4 separate regions of the Homo sapiens genome follow, and regions 2, 3 and 4 are each linked to region 1. Evidence: fine-mapped expression QTL. A gene starts in region 1. Each other region holds a variant in brackets. All regions are shown on one strand. Distances are from middle to middle.

Region 1 (5,205 bases):
CACAGGTCATCTACTAGTTTTATCAGAGAAACTGGACAATGAGTCTCATTTAAGTAATATGGAGAAGGATTGGTCTTTGTGGTAAACTGTTTCGCAGAACACAAAAAGGTGGTGGGATTTCTTAACTATTTCTGTTTCCCATGAGTCTCTGGTAAAGTTCAAAGTTGTCACTGCAAAGCCTTTTTTTTTTTTTTTTTTTTTTTTTTTTTGAGACGGAGTCTCACTCTGTCGCCCAGGCTGGAGTGCAGTGGCGCGATCTCGGCTCACTGCAACCTCCACCTCCTGGGTTCACACCATTCTCCTGCCTCAGCCTCCCGAGTAGCTGGGACTACAGGCGTGTGCCACCATGCCTGGCTAATTTTTTGTATTTTTAGTAGAGACGGGGTTTCACTGTGTTAGCCAGGATGGTCTCAATCTCCTGACCTCGTGATCCACCCGCCTTGGCCTCCCAAAGTGCTGGGATTACAGGCGTGAGCCACCGCGCCTGGCCCTGCAAAGTCTTTAAAGGCCTAGGCCTAGAAGTGACAGAGAGTAATTTTTGCCATATTTGATTGTTTAAGGCAGGTGACAGGTCCGGCCCAGACTCAAGGGCAGAGGACTATACATGGGCATGAATACTGGGAGGCACAGTTAATTGTGTGCCATAAGAAAATAGTCTACCACAAGGTCTGAATCTTGGGCTGAATATTTAGAATGGGATGCCATTAGCATAACCTGTGTGGTAGCTGAAACTATGAGGTGGGATCAGTCTGTGGGTGTATACAGTGGTAAATGCAGAAAAGAGTCCAACAGCTTTGTAAACATTTGAGAATGGAATCTTGAGGGTTGTCATTTTCCTAGTTTCTCAGAAGCCTCTGTTAATCCTATTTCTTCATATACATTCATCCCAGGATTTTCTGTCATTTTGTTGCTAGCCCCATTTCTTGACTATCATCTCAGTATTCACCAGTCTAACAGTGATGATGACTGGTCTAGCCAGAACTCCCAATTAGGGAGTTTTTACATTTTATTTATTTGATAAATAAATAAATCTGGCCGGATTAAATCTGGCCACAGGCACTAACTTAACCTGTTCAGTTTCTGCAACAGAAAGAGGGGCAACAGAAAAAGAGGGATCTCTGTGTGAAGTGGGGTGTTTGTCCACAAAGGTCTCCCACACAGGCATCTTCCTCTGAAGCTAGATAACCTTCAGAAATCTGACCTTTCTCTGACTTGGTTTCCTTTTCTGGACTAAACAGTATCAATTTTCGTTGGAGCTCTTTGTGAAGATAAGCTAATAAAATACCATAAATCTCTTTTACTAAGTGAAGCATTTACCACTCTAATTAACATTATGATTTAAAGGCTTTCATACTGGGGAAACAAACACCACCTTCCCACGTGCTTGGGTTAAAGGGGATCTTAAATCATGATTATGCAGAGACCAAGGGCAACGATAAAAGTTTTAGACATTCCCTGTGTTCTGATAGTCATCAGACGTTTAGGGAGATACTACAACACTGAAGACCCTGTCCAAGTTTATGAGATAAAGATAGAAACCACAGTCTAGTATTGTGGGCTTGTGAAAAAATAACTCCTAACCTTTATCTTTCTATGGGTTGTACTACAAGGTAGGTCTGCACAAAGTGCTAGTGACTCCTCTAAAGTAGGCAGGGGTAAGTTTCACGGAGAAAGTGACAGATGAGCTGAGTTAGAAGCCTACTCAGCCACAGAAAAATGTGGCATGGAAGGCCATTTACCTGTGACAAGGAAATGTAAATTCCTTGGCAGGAGAGCCAGGATCTCAGGAGAGTCCCTGGGACCCTCTGCTCCCCTTCTCAGTCCAACCCTGGGAAGATAGTTGGTGGATGTGAACCTCTGACTAAGACCCAGGAGCTGGTTCCCAGCCTCCAGCCGCGCGCCGGTTGGAAGCAGGGAGAGAAGGGAGGGGTAAAAGCCCTCAGGCGCATGCGCTCAGCAGCCTGCCGGCTCAGCCAAGGAGAGCTCTGCCCGCGGCTCACTCCCCACCTACTCGCTTCTCGCGCCTCGCGGGCCCCAGAAACCCGGACCCGAGAGCGAGCGCGTTGCGCTCGCGCGCAGACTTCAGGTCCCGTGCGGGCGCCTGCGCACGAGCTTCCCAGGCGCGCGGGCCGCGAGGTTATTAGAGGTGGAGCGCGGGGAGGGCGCGCGGCGGGAGGCGGCCGCCGTTACGGCGCGAGCGTGGTCACGTGGCCGCTGGTCACCGCCGCCACCCCCTCCCGCCCTGTTCTCTTTCAGGTCGGGCCGGGCCCGGCCGCTTCCGCGAGCGCCCTGCAGACTGAGGGAGAGAGAGAGAAAGAGGAGGGGAGGAGGAGGAGGATTCAGGGAATAGGAGCTGGGGAGCCCTTCTGCGCCACAGGTAAAATAAAATAATGATGATGATCGTAAAAAAGCCCAAGCCCTCTGAACGCCTCCGCCTTCCTCCAGTGCAGCCCCACATGCAGTCGTTCCCGCCCCGGCCTCCCACTCAGCCTCAGGACAGGTTTCGCCCCCCTTCGCGCCGCTGCTGCAGCCGCAGCCGCCGCCGCCTTCTCACGGGAGGGCCTGAGGGTGCCGCCGCCACGGCGGACGGGTTGCCGCACCGCCCCCCGTTTGTGCGCCTCGGAGTCGGCGTCGGGGGTGGATGGCGGGAGGGGTGGACCCTTCAGCTCCCTGGCGGGCAGGGCGGGCAGGGCGAGCTGGGCGGGGTGGCTGCTTGCAGTCTGCCTGCTTTCCCTGCCCCAGGAGGTCGGGGTCTAGACTGGAAGGCCAACTGCAGTAAAGGCAGGGCCTGGCGGCTGGACTAGTGCTCAACTTCCTACTTAGTAAATTTCCATGTTCATTTGGGCCCCGGGAAGCACGCTTCCTTCCCTAGCCGGAAGCGAAACGGGCCCTGAATCCTCAAACCTTAATAGTCTTTAGAAGAGAGAAGCCTTGACTTCACTTTTGAGGAAGGGAACCGTGACCTGGATTTAGTACGACTTAAGTTTATTCACACGTAAGAAACGGAGGTCTTTCAGGATAAGAGCAAAAAAAAAAAAAAAAAAAAAAAAAAAAAAATTCGCAGGGAGGGCAAATCCCGCTCCCCACCCCGACTTTTCCTGGAAAAACACACAGACCTTCACTACAAGATTCGATTCTACAAGTGACCTAGAATTTGTTCGATACCAGTTACTCGTTTTAGTTACAGGAATTATAATCTGTGTTTAAAGTTAACATCCTGTAGGTTTTTTTCGAATAATAACTTTCTGGAAAGAGTTCATTTGTCAACTCTGAATTGGACAAAATCCTAAGATTTTAACATGCAGGTTTCACACGTTTGGACCAGGTTGCCTGGAATTTCTAGACCCGGTAATTCTTTTGTAAACCTTTATAAGTGTTGTGCTCTTGCACAAAATACTTAAAGCAGGAAGCAATAAATAGGTATTGTTGAAAAATGAGCCTTTGCTATCGGTGGCAAAGAAATTCATTTATATATTGGTTTTTCTCTTTGGGCTTTTCTGATTCCGTGTCTTGGTACTTTTCATACCATATCTCTGAATTCATTTGTAAACTTGAGCATTTTTAATTTTTACAGCTATCTGCAGTATCACAGAACACTCAAACCTTAATGTGGGTGGGAATCACTTGGGGCTCTTATTAAAAATGCATTTTCTGGTTCAGTAGGCCTATGGTGCATTTTGATATTGTACATTTCTGATAACATGTGCAGCTGGACAAGGGACTATCTTTGAGTAGCAAGGAAGTGGATAACTTGTGTGCAAATAAATAAAGTGTTGTATTTATCAATAAACATGTTCTTTTTAATAACTCACCCCCGGGTGTAGAGGTGGCTTGGGAGAAGGGGCAAATGGCAGGATGAACTGAGAAAGCTTTCAGAGTGAGCAGGCTGAGTCTGGATTCCAGGGGAGGGGATAGGAAGAGTGCAAATATTGTGTCTGTATGCTGTATGGTGACTGCATCACCTGGTCTGTGAATTTTCCATTAGAAGCTTGGTGTGCTGTTAGGTGAAAGACTTGCTCAGCTATGCGTCATTGGGTTTTATCAACATATAGGCGAAAAAAATCCTGGTCTCTGAGTGTACAGCTGAGATGAAAATTTCTTTTATTGGAGGAAGTATTGAGTGTGTGCTCTCAAATGCGGCCTCAGTTGAGTAGTGCATTCCTGAGTTTTGGAAGCAAATTTGCAAACAATTGAGAGTCGTACAGTGGGTGTTCTAACTGGATTCAGGTTTTTTCTAATGTAATTTTTTCACACGTAAATTAAAAAGTTTAGAAATGTCACACATAACTTCATAACACTTTATGGAGAAATGGTTGTACTTTTAATTTTTTTCTTTTTATTTATACTCCAACTGACTGAGCAGAGGTTGTACTTCTAAATAACTTTGTGGAAGTTTTTAGTACCATAATTTTTATAATTTTCATTCCAGTCCTTTGATATTTATGACAGTACTTCTGAAGCGCTTACTGAGTGCCGGACACTGTTGTAAGTGCTTTACGGAACTTGACTTTTTTTTTTTTTTGAGACGGACTCTCGCTCTGTCGCCCAGGCTGGAGTGCAGTGGTGCAGTGGCTCGATCTCGGCTCACTGCCACCTCTCCCTCATGGTTTCAAACACTTCTCCTGCCTCAGCCTCCCAGGTAGCCAGGATTATAGCCGCCCGCCACCACTCCCGACTAATTTTATTTTGTATGTTCTTTTTTAGTAGAGACGGAGGAGTTTCACCATGTTGGCCAGGCTGGTATCGACCTCCTGACCTCAAGTGATGTGTCCATCTCGGCCTCCCAAGGTGCTGGAATTACAGGTGTGAGCCACTGTGCTCGGCCTACCTTTTTTTTTTTGTTTTTTGTTTTTTTGAAAAGGAGTTTCGCTCTTGTCCAGGCTGGAGTATAATGGTGCGATCTCAGCTCACCGCAATCTCCGCCTCCCAGATTCAAGCGATTCTCCTGCCTCAGCCTCCTCAGGAGCTGGGATTACAGGCGCCCACCGCCATGCCCGGCTAATTTTTGTATTTTTAGTAGAGACGGGGTTTCACTATATTGGCCAGGCTGGTCTCGAACTGCTGACCTCAAGTAATCCGCCTGCCTCAGCCTCCCAAAGTGCTGGGATTACAGACGTGATCCACCAGGATCACACCAGGCCGCGCCTGGCCTGCTTTCATTTTAAAAGTCAAATTTGTCATCCGCCTCAGTGCTTGTAATCTTTT
Region 2 (5,000 bases), 270 kb after region 1:
GGTATGTGCTACCATGCCTGGCTAATTTTTAAATTTATTTTTGTAGAGACAGGGTCTCAGTACTTTGCCCAGTCTGGTCTTGAATTCCTGGGCTCAACAATCCTCTTGCCTCTGCCACCCCAAAAGCTAGGATTATGGATGTGAGCCGCCACGTCCAGCCTTTGCATGTTTTCAGATGACATATATCTAGCTCAGTGATTAAAATGAGCTGTGTAGCCATTTATTTACCAAGCATTAATATTTCATGTTATTCATAGATAGTGTATCAGTTAACTTGGTTTGTATGACGTACTGTTTCTAAACTTGTTACACAATATAGTAAGCATTTATTATGGGTAATGGTAAAGTGAGCAAGTTGAGTAATTCTCTTACTCTGAGCTGAGCTTGCTTACGTGTCTAAGCAATGGATGATCTAAGATTGTGTCACTTGTGTCTGGAGATTCAGTAAGCTACATGTCTCATCCTCCAGCAGGGTAGCCATCACTTGTTTACATGGTGATGTCAGCTTTCCAAGTAAACAAACTGCCAGGTTTCAGGATTTCATGAGATCTAGACTTGGTACTGTGACCTTGTCAGATCTGCCACATTTTCTTGGCCAAGACAAGTAACAAAGCCAGCTAGAGGTAGCAAAATTGTTAGAGGTAGCAAAAATTGTATTTTTGTATACTAGCAGTGAACAATCCTATAATAATTTTAAGCAAAAATTCTATTCATGATAGCATTAAAAGAACTAAATATTTAGGAATACATTTAACACCAAAAGTAGAGGAAGTACACTGACAACTATAAAACAATACTGGAAGAAATTAAGGAAAGTTATAAATAAGTAGACATTTCATGTTCATGGATTAGAAGACTCAGTATTACTATGTTGCCACTACCTTTTGATGGAAGAAGCTGGAAAGTCACACCCTGAATGTCATATGTTTAGGAAGGGAGTAATTGGGCCATTAATACCATCAATTTTTCACAGATACTAATTCAAAAATAAATGAACATTTATGATATGTAAATATTTTATGTTAATCAGCCAAAAAAAGATGGCATTACCGAAAGACACAAAATAATTAACTGAAAACCTAAGACAATTGACTGAAAAATAATGGAAGCAATGAGAGCTCAACAGTAAAGCAGCTAATGGGAAACAAGCAAAAAAACAAACGTTTTCCTAAATTTCTGGATTTTCCAGATTAAAAATGTATTGCATATGAAAAGGTATAGTGAGGTCTTTAAAATAAATTCTTTAATCAAGTTTAATTTCAATCACATTTCTAGAGAGAGTCTTTTAACCTCTAAAATATCTTTCTAAAATCCATTCAGAATTATGAACTGGTTAAAAAGACAATACAAGTATTCTCTTATGTGAACATTTTTATGACTATGAATTGGAAAACTAAGGTGTAGTGGATACATTTCTATAAAGACAAGAATTATTGAAATAGAGTTCAGTTCAGTAAAATATAACCTAGAAAGCAATGTGTATACATACTTCTAAACTTGTTAAACAATATAGTAAACATTTATTATGGGTAATGTGTATACACATTGCTTTCTAGGTTATATTTTACACATCAAAAACTATGGTTACATAAATGGATATGTAGCCATTAAGTATGTATGAAAATTTTAAAAATGAGAAAAGTTGGTTATTTGATTAAGTGATTTTTATAACGGACATACAATGACTTATACAGTTGTATCACAAGTTTTAAAATATAAAAGAAGAGATAAGTTTCTGCGTGATACTATAACCATTGATGTAATGGAATAAATAATTATAATCCCAGACAGAAAACACCAATCCCAATTTGGGGACAGATGATTTCTAGAAAACATAAAGAGAAAATTCTTTCAGAGAATTGAAAAATAGGGAATGTTTTCAAATTTATATTACGTGACTGGTATAACCTTTGTAACAATATCAGTCAAGAGCATTATGAAAAAGTACAGTCCATTCTTGCTCATGAATATGGATAAAAATAAAATATTAGTAAACAGAATCCAGCATGGGTAAAAAGATAAACATATTTTACCAAATTTTGTTTATCCTGGGAATGCAAGGTTAGTACTTAGGGAAAATCTATTTTTGTAATTTAGCTTATTAGCAAAGTGGAAAAGTCATTTCAGTAGTTGTAGGGGAAACATTAAAAAAATTCACATAAGTTTGTGATAAAATAACTGTTAACAAACTGTGGATTGAGGAGACCTTCTTTAATATGAAGAAGGACATTTATAAAAGAATTACACTAAAATCCTTCTCAATGTAAAATGTTAAAAGTTTTCTCTTTAAAATTAGAAATAAAAATCTACACATAAATTATTAGAATTTAATAATTTAGTTTACCTATATTCCTTGTTATATAACGTGTGCAAAATCAGTCGCACTTACAAATATACCAGCAATAAAGATACAGCATTTATAACAGTACAAAAATATGAGTAAACCTTCAATAAATCAGTAAACTATGTGGTAGTTTTTGTGGAGAA[C/T]GTTATGAAACTTCATTGGAAGACATTTAAGAAGACCTGAATAAATATAGAGGACACACCATGATCATGGATGAGAAGACTTATTGTCACAGAGTTATTAGGTTTTCCCCAAATTGATCTATAGATTCAGTGTATTTTTCAGTCAAAATTTTTACATTGATTTGTTATTTTTAGTAACTTGGCAGGTCATTCAAGTATTTAATAGAAAAAAGGTACAATAGTCAAGACATTTCTGAAAAAAAACATGCACATTTTATATAACTAGGTAATATGATAATGGCTCATGACTTGATAAATAGACTAGTGGGAAGAACAGATAGACAGATAGACTCAAACTTACATGAAAACCAAATACATGACAGAGCTGAAATTATAGATCAGTGGTGAAAGAATGGCATCTTCATTAAGTGGTGCAGAGGACAACTGATTTTTCATTTGGGTGGAAAACAAAAATGAATTATTTTCTCACATCTTACTAACAATACCAAATTCTCCTAAATTAAAAACTTAAATGTGTAAAGCAAAACTATAAAACTTTTAGAAGAAAATATAATTTCAAATATCAAAAAGGAAAAAATATATATATAGAATTAAATTATTGCAAAATCAAAAACTATTATGAGAAGATACTGTAAACAGAGTGAAAATACAAACCACAGTCTAAGAAAAGATGATAATATACAAAACTAAAAAAAGTTTAGCATCCAAGAGGTATGAAGAATTCTTATGAATCAATATGAAAATGGCATGAAAAAGGCCTATATTTTGTAGTAAAGGAACCATGCAATAGCCATATATGTATGAAGAATTTAAATAAAATCCCTGTCAGATAACATATGATAACCTCTAGATTGGCAAAAATCAATTAATGTGAGTTTGCCACCGTGTGAAGAAACGTGAGCTCTGTTACGTTGCTGATAGGAGTTAAAGTTGGTTCAAACATTTTGGAAATAACTTGGCATTACAAGAAAATTGAATATGACCATACCCTAGGAACACAGGGAAACTATTGCATATCTGCATCAAGAATTGTGTGTAAGAACATTGTTTATGATAACAAAACTGGAAACAGTCCAAATGTGTATCAGCAGTGCAAATAATTTCTTCAGCTTCTGACTGGGAATGCCATCCTCAGGAGAGAGTTGATAGTGGGGTTAGACTGGGAAGAGGAGTAGTGGAAATGAAGATAATTAAACAGATACCGGATATATTTTTGATTTAGGGTAGAGAAAACTACTTGTTGATGATTGCAGGGCAGTGAGGTAAAAGATTTATCTAGAAAGATTCCTAGATTTTTGGCATTGGGCAACTGACTAGAGAGGTGATAACATTTACTAAAGTGTTGGAAATTGATGGAAAATTAGATGATATCATTTACTAAAGTGTTGGTAGTTGATAGAAAATTAAATTTGGAGGGGGTGAGTGGGGAGGAGAAATAAAGAGTTTTGTTTGCCTTGTATGGTGACGTCTGAGATGTCTGTTAGACTTTTTGTCTTGTGGAGATGGATATATGAGTCTGAGATTCTGGGAAGATGTAAAGTCTTAAGATATAGGTTGGGGAGAAGTTACCATGCAGATGGTGTTAGATTTGGGAATATATAAACGGGTGGGGCGGGGCAAGGTAGAACCACCGGATACTCTTAACATGTAGAGATTAGTAAATGAGAGTTTGATATCTTTAATATCCAAAAATTCAGACAAGTTAGGAATATGAACACAATTGAAAAATGACCAAAGGACATAAACTAGCAATTCTTAGGCAATATTTTGGATGCTTAATAATTAAATGCAGAGTGACCTCATTTGCCATATAAGGAATGACATTAAAGCAAGTTTGTTTCTTGTTTTTCTTTTTTTTCTTCCACATTGTTACGTTAAAAAAAGTAATGCAACTGGGCTTTGCTTGAGGTCTAGGGAATTGGAGATTTTCACATAGGTTTTGTGGCAATATAGATTGGTATTATCCTTCCGGCATTCCATTTGGCAATGTATATCATAAGTCTTAACGTGTCCTTGCCCATTGACATTCAGTTTAATTTTTCTCTTTCTGAAAGCCTGTGCTTCTCCTGTCCTTGCCTGTTTTTTACTTTCGATGTCAATGATGCATTAAAATAGATTTAAGTGTGAATTGTTGGTTGGTTGAACATAAAGTTTTTATTTATGTGAAACTGTCTAAATATATCTTCTGAAGATTGGAGTCGTTCTTTATTATTTTCATGTTTTCTCTATGTTGCTGTTCATTTCTTTTACTTTTGAATATCAGCTTTATTTTTTTCCTTTTGGATAGAGAATTGATTCCTTCTTTCAAATATTGCTAATGTTCATACCTAGTACAGAAAACTTATAATAAATCACATAATGTTCAATTTTTAATGAATTAAATAGAAAACAGGGTATGATTTTCCCATTTTGCCCAAAGGAAAACAAAGATATGATGGACATTTTAGGACAAACATAAACTCAGCTTATGATGAAGCTCGTTTATCTCAGTTAAGTTTATAACTCAGAAATCT
Region 3 (5,205 bases), 55 kb after region 1:
GTTATTTTTCCATATTTCTTTGGTTTGTCATTCTTGTATAGGCCATCACAATCTACTCCTTGTTATGTTTTCTAGTCTTGTTTCCCACTGTTTTTTTGTTGGCCATGTTATGACTTATTAAAGCATCATGTATTATAGCAACAATTCTTTTATTCATATCCTTTTATACTGATTAAATGCTATCTCTTCTTTTTCGCTCATACTGGTCCTTCTAGCACTGTTGACGTTTTGGGCTGAATAACTGATTTTTTGGGGGGGAGGGGTCCTATCCTGTTTGTTGTATGTTTAGGTATGTTTAGGGATGATAGGTTTAGGTATGTTCAGCTGCATCCCTGGCCACTACTCACCAGATGCAAGTTATATTTCTCATTTGGAACAACCTAAAGTTTTTCTAGACATTGCCAAATGTCCCCTGGGGGCAGTGTCTTCCATAGTTGACAACTACTATTGTATTCCTGTATGATTTTGATCTGAGACACAGAGGCATTTCTGATTATCCCTGCCTGATGTGACTTTTTACCTGCTGGATTTTCTGTAGTATACATTGTCTGAATTATACATTTATCTTTTATTACATTTTGTTATGAATTCCCCTCCCTCCCTTTTTTCTCTTTTTCTTTTCTTTTTTTTTTTTTTTTTTGAGACAGGGTCTCACTCTGTCGCCCAGGCAGGGCCCACTGCAGCCTTGACCTTCCCAACTCAAGCGATCCTCCAGCTTCAGCCTCCTGGCTAGCTGGGGCCATAGGCACACAGCACCATGCCTAGCTAATTTTTTGTATTTTTAGAATAGACGGGGTTTCGCCATGTTGTCCACTGATCTCAAATTCCTGGACTGAAGCAATCTGCCCACTTTGGCCTCCCAAAGTGCTGGGATTACAGTCGTGAGCCATTGTGCCCGGACTTTGTTGTGAGTGTCTAACGCATTTTCTAGAGGACTGGGTCCATCTATTTCACTTTTTTGTTTGTTTGCTATTTTGGCCAACTCCATGCACTTGTTAGTAGCTTTGAATGTCTTTTCCTTTGTTTTTCCATTTCTTTTATGGTGATAATGGGGATTTTGGAAAGTAAATCACTCTAGAAAATATGGAAAATTTTGAAGCATTCTAAATTATGAGACTCTATTAATGGTAATTATGGAGTTTCAGCCAATGGAATTAATGCCAATATAACAATTCTCTGTGTACCCAGTAGTAACTCTGGAAAATTCGGGACAATTCAAGATAGTTTTAAAAATATAAGAAAGATATAATTTATGTTAGATGTGTTCATTATACAAGTAACCAGAAAAATGTACAGTAGGGTAGAAATTTTAAAAATAGGCTGAGAAATATAGAAAGTGGAAGGATTTGTAGAAGCATGAAGGACAAATGATTAGTTCCACAGAATGAGATGAGCAAAGTAATCAATATGTCGGGGTACATTGTTAGGAATGATGGATGTAGCATCTGGTTAGGAGTGACTTGTGCAAAGCTGACAAACGTGATATGTGAATGCTAGTAAGTTGAATACAAGTTGGGCACAGAGAAGTTGGCTTCTTAGTACTGCCTAAAGAGAAACATCTATGTTTTGCCCCGGTTGGTAAAGATACAGCTCAGATGTAGATGCTCCATGCCATTGTTTAAATCAGTGAATTCTAGGTAATAAAATAAATTGAAGCCTGAACCTAACCACTTTTCTAAGGTGGCTGATTGCTTCTTCATCTGTGCCAACATTTTTATGAAAAATAATCAATACACATAGTATGTATTCATTGTAGAAAAACTAGAAATTAATGAAATGTATGGATAAAGTAAAATTTAGTTACAATTCCTCAAAGGAGAGCTAAACCACTAGTATCAGTTTAGTTTTTATTTTCTTAAGTTTTATATGGTCTCAGTCTCTCTAGATATAGCTATATGATGGGCCTATATGTATGTGTATATATATACTAGTATATGTATTTGTATATATGTATATTGATATGAAATGGGTTATTGTATATGAAATAGTTTATATTTTTTTATTTAATACTGTGAACAGTTCTCCATATCAGTAAAATTCTTCAAAGTGATATTTAGTGAAATCATAGCATTCGATTCTAAGATTATCCCTAAATTTAACCATTCTTCTATTGTTAAATATCTTTTCCTTCATTTTCATTAATTTGCAGTGAACTTCTCTAATGAAAATCTTTCAGTACCTCTTTCATTTTCTTTGAAGA[G/T]TTGTAACTTTTACTGCAGTCTGCCTATTTTAATTCACCTCACAAAATTTATTCTGTCTTCCTTAGTTACAAAAGAATCCCAGTTTTATAGCTGAGTATATTGACAGTGTTACAGACTACATTGCCTGGCCTTCCAAGTGGTTAAGTGTGACCAAAGGGCTAAGTTTATGGTTTATAAGATATAAGGTGGAATATTGTGTGAGATAAGAGAATAGGGAGGGCTTTTCTTCTCCTTTCAGACTTCTTCCTGCTGCCTGCAATGTAGGTAGATTAGCTGCAATTCTCATAGCCTTCTTGGAATATGAGGTGACTTTGAATAGAAACTGTACGGTAGAGCAAAAAGGTGGAAGGAACTTGGGCCCCTTATAGTTGGAGCTGCCATATCAGCCTGTGATTTTCTTCTTCTGGACATTTACATGGGAGAAATAAATTTGTCTCCTCCCTCCTTTTTTCCCCCTCTCCTTGTTATTATTTGATTATTATTTTTATTGATTTGGGAGGGATGTGACCTAATCCTAGCTGACAAAGTATACTATTATTTAAAGCCTCTATATGATAATATAACAGGTCAAATATAAGGAAACATACATTTTTGTCATTCCTTGGTTTCTTAAAGTGTTGGGATTACAGGTGTGAGCCACCATGTCTGGCTAAATTTAGCTTTTAATGCTCTCATATTAACTTGTTGAAAACATTTTGATATATGAAATTTTTAGAAAACATTTTTTATGACTGTAGACTTACTGTTTAATATTGATTCTAAGAAAGGTAATCATAACTTTAGTCATATAAGTGAAGAATACATATTTGAAAAAATAAGATAGTTTTTGAGCAGTTTTAGCTTTAGAGAAAAATGGAGCAGAAAGTACAAAGGGTTCCCATATACCCGGTCTCCCAAGGATACACTTTTTTTATCCAGGATATTTCACTATACATATTATACATAGAAAAAAGACTCTACATCTATTAACCAAATATATATTATTTTGTAATAGGAAAACCATACATGTTACTTTAATTCAGGGTTTCCTACCCTCATCACTACTAACATTTTAGGCTAGATAATTCCTTGTTGTAGGAGCCATCCTGTGCATTGTAGGATGTTTAGCAGCATCCCTGACCTCTACCCACTAGATGTCAGTAATTCTCCCTAGTTGTGACACACAAAATGCCTCCACGCATTGCCAAATGTCCCTTAAGAAACAAAGTCACCCTTAGTTGAGAACCCATGCTTTAACAATATAGGTGTTTTAGAATTTTCTAAATTTTTCAGGTTTGGCCTAAATTTAAGGGCTCTATAGCTTAATGAATCTTCCCACTGAAGATTGTGTAGGCAAAATGTGGATCTTTCCTGCCACTTGGGCACTGTAGGCAGTATACATAATTTTACTGGGCCTCAGTTTCCTTCACTGAAAAATAGGTAAAATGTTACCTAACTTGAAAGATTGTTGTGAGAATTCACTAAGATAAATTATATAAAACACTTTAATTAATTAGTAAATTAGGTTAATTTCCTTCTCTTCAAGCGTACTATATTGTTTTAATGTAGTCCCTTCAGTGTGTCAAAAACCTATCACAAAGTTATTATTTCTATGGGAACAGCTATCATAACTTGGGATCTACTATTTAAGGATATAAAGAATGCTATACTATGGGTAGATAAAACCTTTGTTAAATGAAGGCTGATTTATGAGGTCAGTTGTGTTTTGACCCTTTATGGTACCCTAATTAGATTGTGACTACATTCAGATTGTAACAGTTAAGGGATCTCATCGTGTTCTTTCAAGGACTTTGAGCTTCCCAGATTGAAGATAGCATTAGATGTCAGCCAATCACTTTGTCCTTTGAAGTTTTTGTCTTTCACGTCTGAAATCCCGCCAATTGTAACAGCTTGTGTGTCAGCCCCAATAGAGAAAGTTGGATACTGTCAAGTTGAAGTTAGTCCACTGAAGACTTCTAAAAATCTTGACATAGTTTATGACTAATAATGTCGACTTCCCATTATTTTTAGAATTGTAAAACATTGTCCACTAGTGAATGAAATGCCATCTGTAATAATTAAGGCTCTTCTTATTATTCTCCTGCAGAAAATTTCTAAAGATTTGGTGAAGATAGGAAAACTGTCAGAAAGGCTGTAGCATTATTATATTGTAGGTATTTCTTTGAAAAAGAAGTGTAAGTTAAGAATGTCTTGAGTGTCCAGTTGTTTGAGGGAAAATATGTTAGAGAAAGATATATATAATATCAAGGCAGTTGTATTATAATTATATTAATGATGTATGAGAACTAATCCTATGCAGTCTTTTAAACATTGAAAATGTGTTCATATGTATTGAGATGAGGATTTTACCAATAGTATTGAAAAATATTTCTAATTCTAACAAGGATTGATCTAACTTATGTACATTTGCTTATTTAAATTATCAAAATCCGGAAAATCATTGTAGCTTTGTAGGTTGTGATATGTTTGGGTGACTTATTATTTAGGTTATTTTGCAGAATTATTTATTTGCTGTTTTATTTATGTATTTCATTATTTATTTATTTGATTATTTAGTAAATTATTTATCTGATGAATTATTAATACATCTTCACGACATCCTTTAAATTATTTATAAGTTAATTTTGAGTTTATTGCTTTTAGACGCTGCATTGTTACTGACTAGTTTTGATTTTTTTCTTTGTGGTTCTTGAAAATTAAAGTATCAGCTCTAAGGCAAAAGTATAGTCATTGCAATGCTCATGGATTTTTTTTAAATTTATGGCAGAGATAAAATTTCAGCTTTTTTTAGCTTTAAATTTACCTATTTAGAGTTACCAGTGGTAGAATGTTTGTGTATTATGTGCATACTCATTTTAGAGTCACTTACAAATTAATGATATAGCCTATCATTTATAAACAGTGATTGAACATGTAAACCTCAGTCTGCATTACCCTTTGTGTCTTTAAAGAACAGATCTGCATTTTTTACTTGTTTTAAAATGAATAAGTCTTGGTTATTTTA
Region 4 (5,205 bases), 43 kb after region 1:
TTTAAAAAAAAAAGTCTTTTTTGTTGCCCAGATTGGAGTGCAGTGGCGCTATCTTGGCTCACTGCAACCTCTGCTTCCTGGGCTCAAGCGATCTTCCCAACTCCGCCTCTGTAGTAGCTGGAACTACAGTTGTGCGCCACCCAGGAGACTTTTTTTTATTATTATTATACTTTAAGTTCTAGGGTACATGTGCAGAATGTGCAGGTTTGATACATAGGTAAACATGTGCTATTTTGGTTTGCTGCACCCATCAGCTCGTCATTTACATTAGGTATTTCTCCTAATGCTATCTCTCCTCCAGCCCCCTACCCCCTAACAGGCCCCAGTGTGTGATGTTCCCCGCCTTATGTCCAAGTGATCTCGTTCAGGTCCCACCTATGAGTGAGAACATGTGGTATTTGGTTTTCTGTCCTTGTGATAGTTTGCTGAGAATGATGGTTTCCAGCTTCATCCATGTCCCTGCAAAGGACATGAACTCATCCTTTTTATGGCTGCATAGTATTCCATGGTGTATATGTGCCACATTTTCTTAATCCAGTCCATCATTGATGGACATTTGGGTTGGTTCCAAGTCTTTGCTATTGTGAATAGTGCTACAATAAACATACGTATGCATGTGTCTTTATAGTAGCATGATTTATAATCCTTTGGGTATATACCTAGTAATGGGATGGCTGGGTCAAATGGTATTTCGAGTTCTAGATCTTTGAGGGATTACCACACTGTCTTCCACAATGGTTGAACTGGTTTACAGTCCCACCAACAGTGTAAAAGTGTTCCTATTTCTCCACATCCTCTCCAGCACCTGTTGTTTCCTGACTTTTTAATGATCGCCATTCTCACTGGTGTGAGGTGGTATCTCATTGTGGTTTTGCTTTGCATTTCTCTGATGGCCAGTGATGATGAGCATTTTTTCACGTGTCTGTTGGCCGCGTAGATGTCTTCTTTTGAGAAGTGTCTTTTCATATCCTTCGCCCACTTTTTGATGGGGTTGTTTGTTTTTTTCTTGTAAATTTGTTTGAGTTCTTTGTAGATTCTGGATATTAGCTCTTTGTCAGATGAGTAGATTGCAAAAATTTTCTCCTATTCTGTAGGTTGCCTGTTCACTCTGATGGTAGTTTCTTTTGCTGTGCAGAAACTCTTTAGTTTAATTAGATCCCATTTGTCAATTTTGGCTTTTGTTGTCATTGCTTTTGGTGTTTTGGACATGAAGTCCTTGCCCATGCCTATGTCCTGAATGGTATTGCCTAGGTTTTCTTCTAGGGTTTTTATGGTTTTAGGTCTAACATTTAAGTCTTTAATCCATCTTGAATTAATTTTTGTATAAGGTGTAAGGAAGGGATCCAGTTTCAGCTTTCTCCATATGGCTAGCCAGTTTTCCCAGCACCATTTATTAAATAGGGAATTGTTTCCCCATTTCTTGTTTTTGTCAGGTTTGTCAAAGATCAGATGGTTGTAGTTGTGTGGTATTTTTTTTTTTTTGTCTGTCATTTTTCAAGTGTTCCCTTTCAGTTTATTAGTGGCCAAGGGACAAGCCAAAGCAGATGATGGATAATTAAGAAGGTGGGGCTTTAGAACACATAGCTTGCCAGAACTCTAGTGTGGGTGGAACTTGATTGTATTGAGTCACCATAAGTGGACAAGGAAGGAGCTTCTAACAGGTGAAGGGGGTATATCTCAGGGGGCAGAGCATTTGACTGCAGATCAAGAGGTCCCCGGTTGAAATCCGGGTGCTGGATTTTCTCACTTCCATTTTAAAGTAGATACTGTCAGCCACAGTGTCACCAGAATAGATGAGAAAACTTTCTTTCTTTTTTTTTTTTTTCCCTTGACACAGTACTCCTTTAATCCCACAATACTCTGTGGTAATTTTAAATCAGATACATTGAAAGGATATTAACTTTTACAATATTATTGGACAATTAAAACTATATATGTAAATCCAAGAGACTGGAGGATCTACATATACTGAGTTTCTTATTTAACAATAACTGATGATTTTTATATAATTGAGAATAAATCTGTATCAGATGATGAGACTCATAGAGGATAATAGGTCAATTATTATGGTAATTTTAAAAATCTATTTATTATTATTATACTTTAAGTTTTAGGGTACATGTGCACAATGTGCAGGTTAGTTACATATGTATACATGTGCCATGCTGGTGCGCTGCACCCACTAACTCGTCATCTAGCATTAGGTATATCTCCCAATGCTATCCCTCCCCCCTCCCCCCACCCCACAACAGTCCCCAGAGTGTGATGTTCCCCTTCCTGTGTCCATGTGTTCTCATTGTTCAATTCCCACCTATGAGTGAGAATATGTGGTGTTTGGTTTTTTGTTCTTGCGATAGTTTACTGAGAATGATGATTTCCAATTTCATCCATGTCCCTACAAAGGACATGAACTCATCATTTTTTATGGCTGCATAGTATTCCATGGTGTATATGTGCCACATTTTCTTAATCCAGTCTATCATTGTTGGACATTTGGGTTGGTTCCAAGTCTTTGCTATTGTGAATAATGCCGCAATAAACATACGTGGGCATGTGTCTTTATAGCAGCATGATTTATAGTCCTTTGGGCATATACCCAGTAATGGGATGGCTGGGTCAAATGGTATTTCGAGTTCTAGATCCCTGAGGAATCGCCACACTGACTTCCACAATGGTTGAACTAGTTTAC[A/C]GTCCCACCAACAGTGTAAAAGTGTTCCTATTTCTCCACATCCTCTCCAGCACCTGTTGTTTCCTGACTTTTTAATGATTGCCATTCTAACTGGTGTGAGATGATATCTCATGTGGTTTTGATTTGCATTTCTCTGATGGCCAGTGATGATGAGCATTTTTTCATGTGTCTTTTGGCTGCATAAATGTCTTCTTTTGAGAAGTGTCGGTTCATATCCTTTGCCCACTTTTTGATGGGGTTGTTTGTTTTTTTCTTGTAAATTTGTTTGAGTTCATTGTAGATTCTGGATATTAGCCCTTTGTCAGATGAGTAGGTTGCGAAAATTTTCTCCCATTTTGTAGGTTGCCTGTTCACTCTGATGGTAGTTTCTTTTGCTGTGCAGAAGCTCTTTAGTTTAATTAGATCCCATTTGTCAATTTTGGCTTTTGTTGCCATTGCTTTTGGTGTTTTAGACATGAAGTCCTTGCCCATGCCTATATCCTGAATGGCAATGCCTAGGTTTTCTTCTAGGGTTTTTATGGTTTTAGGTCTAACGTTTAAGTCTTTAATCCATCTTGAATTGATTTTTGTATAAGGTGTAAGGAAGGGTTCCAGTTTCAGCTTTCTCCATATGGCTAGCCAGTTTTCCCAGCACCATTGATTAAATAGGGAATCCTTTCCCCAATGCTTGTTTTTGTCAGGTTTGTCAAAGATCAGATAGTTGTAGATATGCGGCGTTATTTCTGAGGGCTCTGTTCTGTTCCATTGATCTATATCTCTGTTTTGGGACCAGTACCATGCTTCTTTGGTTACTGTAGCCTTGTAGTATAGTTTGAAGTCAGGTAGCATGATGCCTCCAGCTTTGTTCTTTTGGCTTAGGATTGACTTGGCAATGTGGGCTCTTTTTTGGTTCCATATGAACTTGAAAGTAGTTTTTTCCAATTCTGTGAAGAAAGTCATTGGTAGCTTGATGGGGATGGCATTGAATCTGTAAATTACCTTGGGCAGTATGGCCATTGTGGTATTCTTTCTGAGGCCTCTGTTCTTTTCCATTGGTTTATATCTCTGTTTTGGAACCAGTACCATGCTGTTTTGGTTACTGTAGCCTTGTAGTGTATTTTGAAGTCAGGTAGTGTGATGCCTACAGCTTTGTTCTTTTTGCTTAGGATTGTCTTGGCAACGCGGGTTCTGTTTTGGTTCCACATGAACTTTAAAGTAGTTTTTTCCAATTCTGTGAAGCAAGTCATTGGTAGCTTGATGGGGATGGCATTGAATCTATAAATTACCTTGGGCAGTATGGCCATTTTCACAATATTGATTCTTCCTATCCGTGAGCGTGGGATGTTCTTCCATTTGTTTGTATCCTCTTTTATTTCATTGAGCAGTGGTTTGTAGTTCTCCTTGAAGAAGTCCTTCACATCCCTTGTAAGTTGGATTCTTAGGCATTTTATTCTCTTGGTAGCAATTGTGAATGGGAATTCACTTGTGATTTGGCTCTCTGTTTGTCTGTTATTTGTATATAGGAATGCTTGTGATTTTTTCACATTGATTTTGTATCCTGAGACTTTGCTGAAGTTGCTTATCAGCTTAAGGAGATTTTGGGCTGAGACGATGGGGTTTTCTAAATATACAATCATGTCATCTGCAAACAGGGACAATTTGACTTCCTCTTTTCCTAATTAAATACCTTTTATTTCTTTGTCTTGCCTGATTGCCCTGGCCAGAACTTCCAACCCTATGTTGAATACGAGTGGTGAGAGAGGGCATCCTTGTCTTGTGCCGATTTTCCAAGGAAATGCTTCCGGTTGTTGCCCATTCGGTATGATATTGGCTGTGGGTTTGTCATAAATAGCTCTTAGTATTTTGTGATATGTTCCATCAATACCTAGTTTATTGAGAGTTTTTAGCATGAAATACTGTTGAATTTTGTCGAAGGCCTTTTCTGCATCTATTAAGATAATCATGTGGTTTTTATCATTGGTTCTGTTTATGTGATGGATTATGTTTATTGATTTGCGTATGTTGAATCAGCCTTGCATCCCAGGGGTGAAGCTGACTTGATCATGGTGGGTAAGCTTTTTGATGTGATGCTGGATTCGGTTTGCCAGTATTTTATTGAGAATTTTCACATCAATGTTCTTCAGAGATATTGGTCTAAAATTCTTTTTTTCTGTTGTGTCTCTGCCAGGCTTTGGTATCGGGAAGATGTTGGCCTCATAAAATGAGTTAGGGAGGATTTCCTCTTTGTCTATTGATTGGAATACTTTCAGAAGGAATGGTACCAGCTCCTCTTTGTACCTCTGGTAGAATTTAGCTGTGAATCCGTCTGGTCCTGGACTTTTTTTTGGTTGGTAGGCTGTTAATTATTGCCTCAATTTCAGAGCCTGTGATTGTTCTATTCAGAGATTCAACTTCTTGCTGGTTTAGTCTTGGTTTAGTCTTGTATGTATCCAGGAATTCATCTATTTCTTCTAGATTTTCTAGTTTATTTGCCTAGAGGTGTTTATAGTATCCTCTGATGGTAGTTTGTATTTCTG

The links. PIP is the estimated chance that this variant, and not a neighbour inherited with it, causes the effect.
Region 2: its variant is the best candidate, but not a certain one, in a credible set for the expression of TBC1D5 in testis (GTEx, PIP 0.52).
Region 3: its variant is the best candidate, but not a certain one, in a credible set for the expression of TBC1D5 in whole blood (TOPMed, PIP 0.66).
Region 4: its variant is the best candidate, but not a certain one, in a credible set for the expression of TBC1D5 in whole blood (INTERVAL, PIP 0.84).

What each region holds. Positions count from the first base shown.
Region 1 is chr3:17,739,653-17,744,857 of GRCh38, reverse strand. It overlaps TBC1D5 (TBC1 domain family member 5), which reads left to right and starts at 2,227. Exons shown (of 23, transcript NM_001349074.2): 1 at 2,227-2,377. LOC105376975 (a long non-coding RNA gene) reads right to left here and starts at 1,914. Exons shown (of 2, transcript NR_135536.1): 1 at 1,740-1,914. RefSeq lists enhancers at 1,811-1,880, 1,838-2,541 and silencers at 2,001-2,310, 2,541-2,740.
Region 2 is chr3:17,474,279-17,479,278 of GRCh38, reverse strand. The region is part of intron 3 of TBC1D5 (TBC1 domain family member 5); the gene reads left to right. Among named protein-coding and RNA genes, the nearest start is that of TBC1D5, 270 kb to the left of the region's middle. The variant C/T (reference allele first, on the strand shown) is at 2,488.
Region 3 is chr3:17,684,954-17,690,158 of GRCh38, reverse strand. The region is part of intron 1 of TBC1D5 (TBC1 domain family member 5); the gene reads left to right. Among named protein-coding and RNA genes, the nearest start is that of TBC1D5, 55 kb to the left of the region's middle. The variant G/T (reference allele first, on the strand shown) is at 2,201.
Region 4 is chr3:17,696,434-17,701,638 of GRCh38, reverse strand. The region is part of intron 1 of TBC1D5 (TBC1 domain family member 5); the gene reads left to right. It also overlaps the pseudogene TRC-GCA25-1. Among named protein-coding and RNA genes, the nearest start is that of TBC1D5, 44 kb to the left of the region's middle. The variant A/C (reference allele first, on the strand shown) is at 2,690.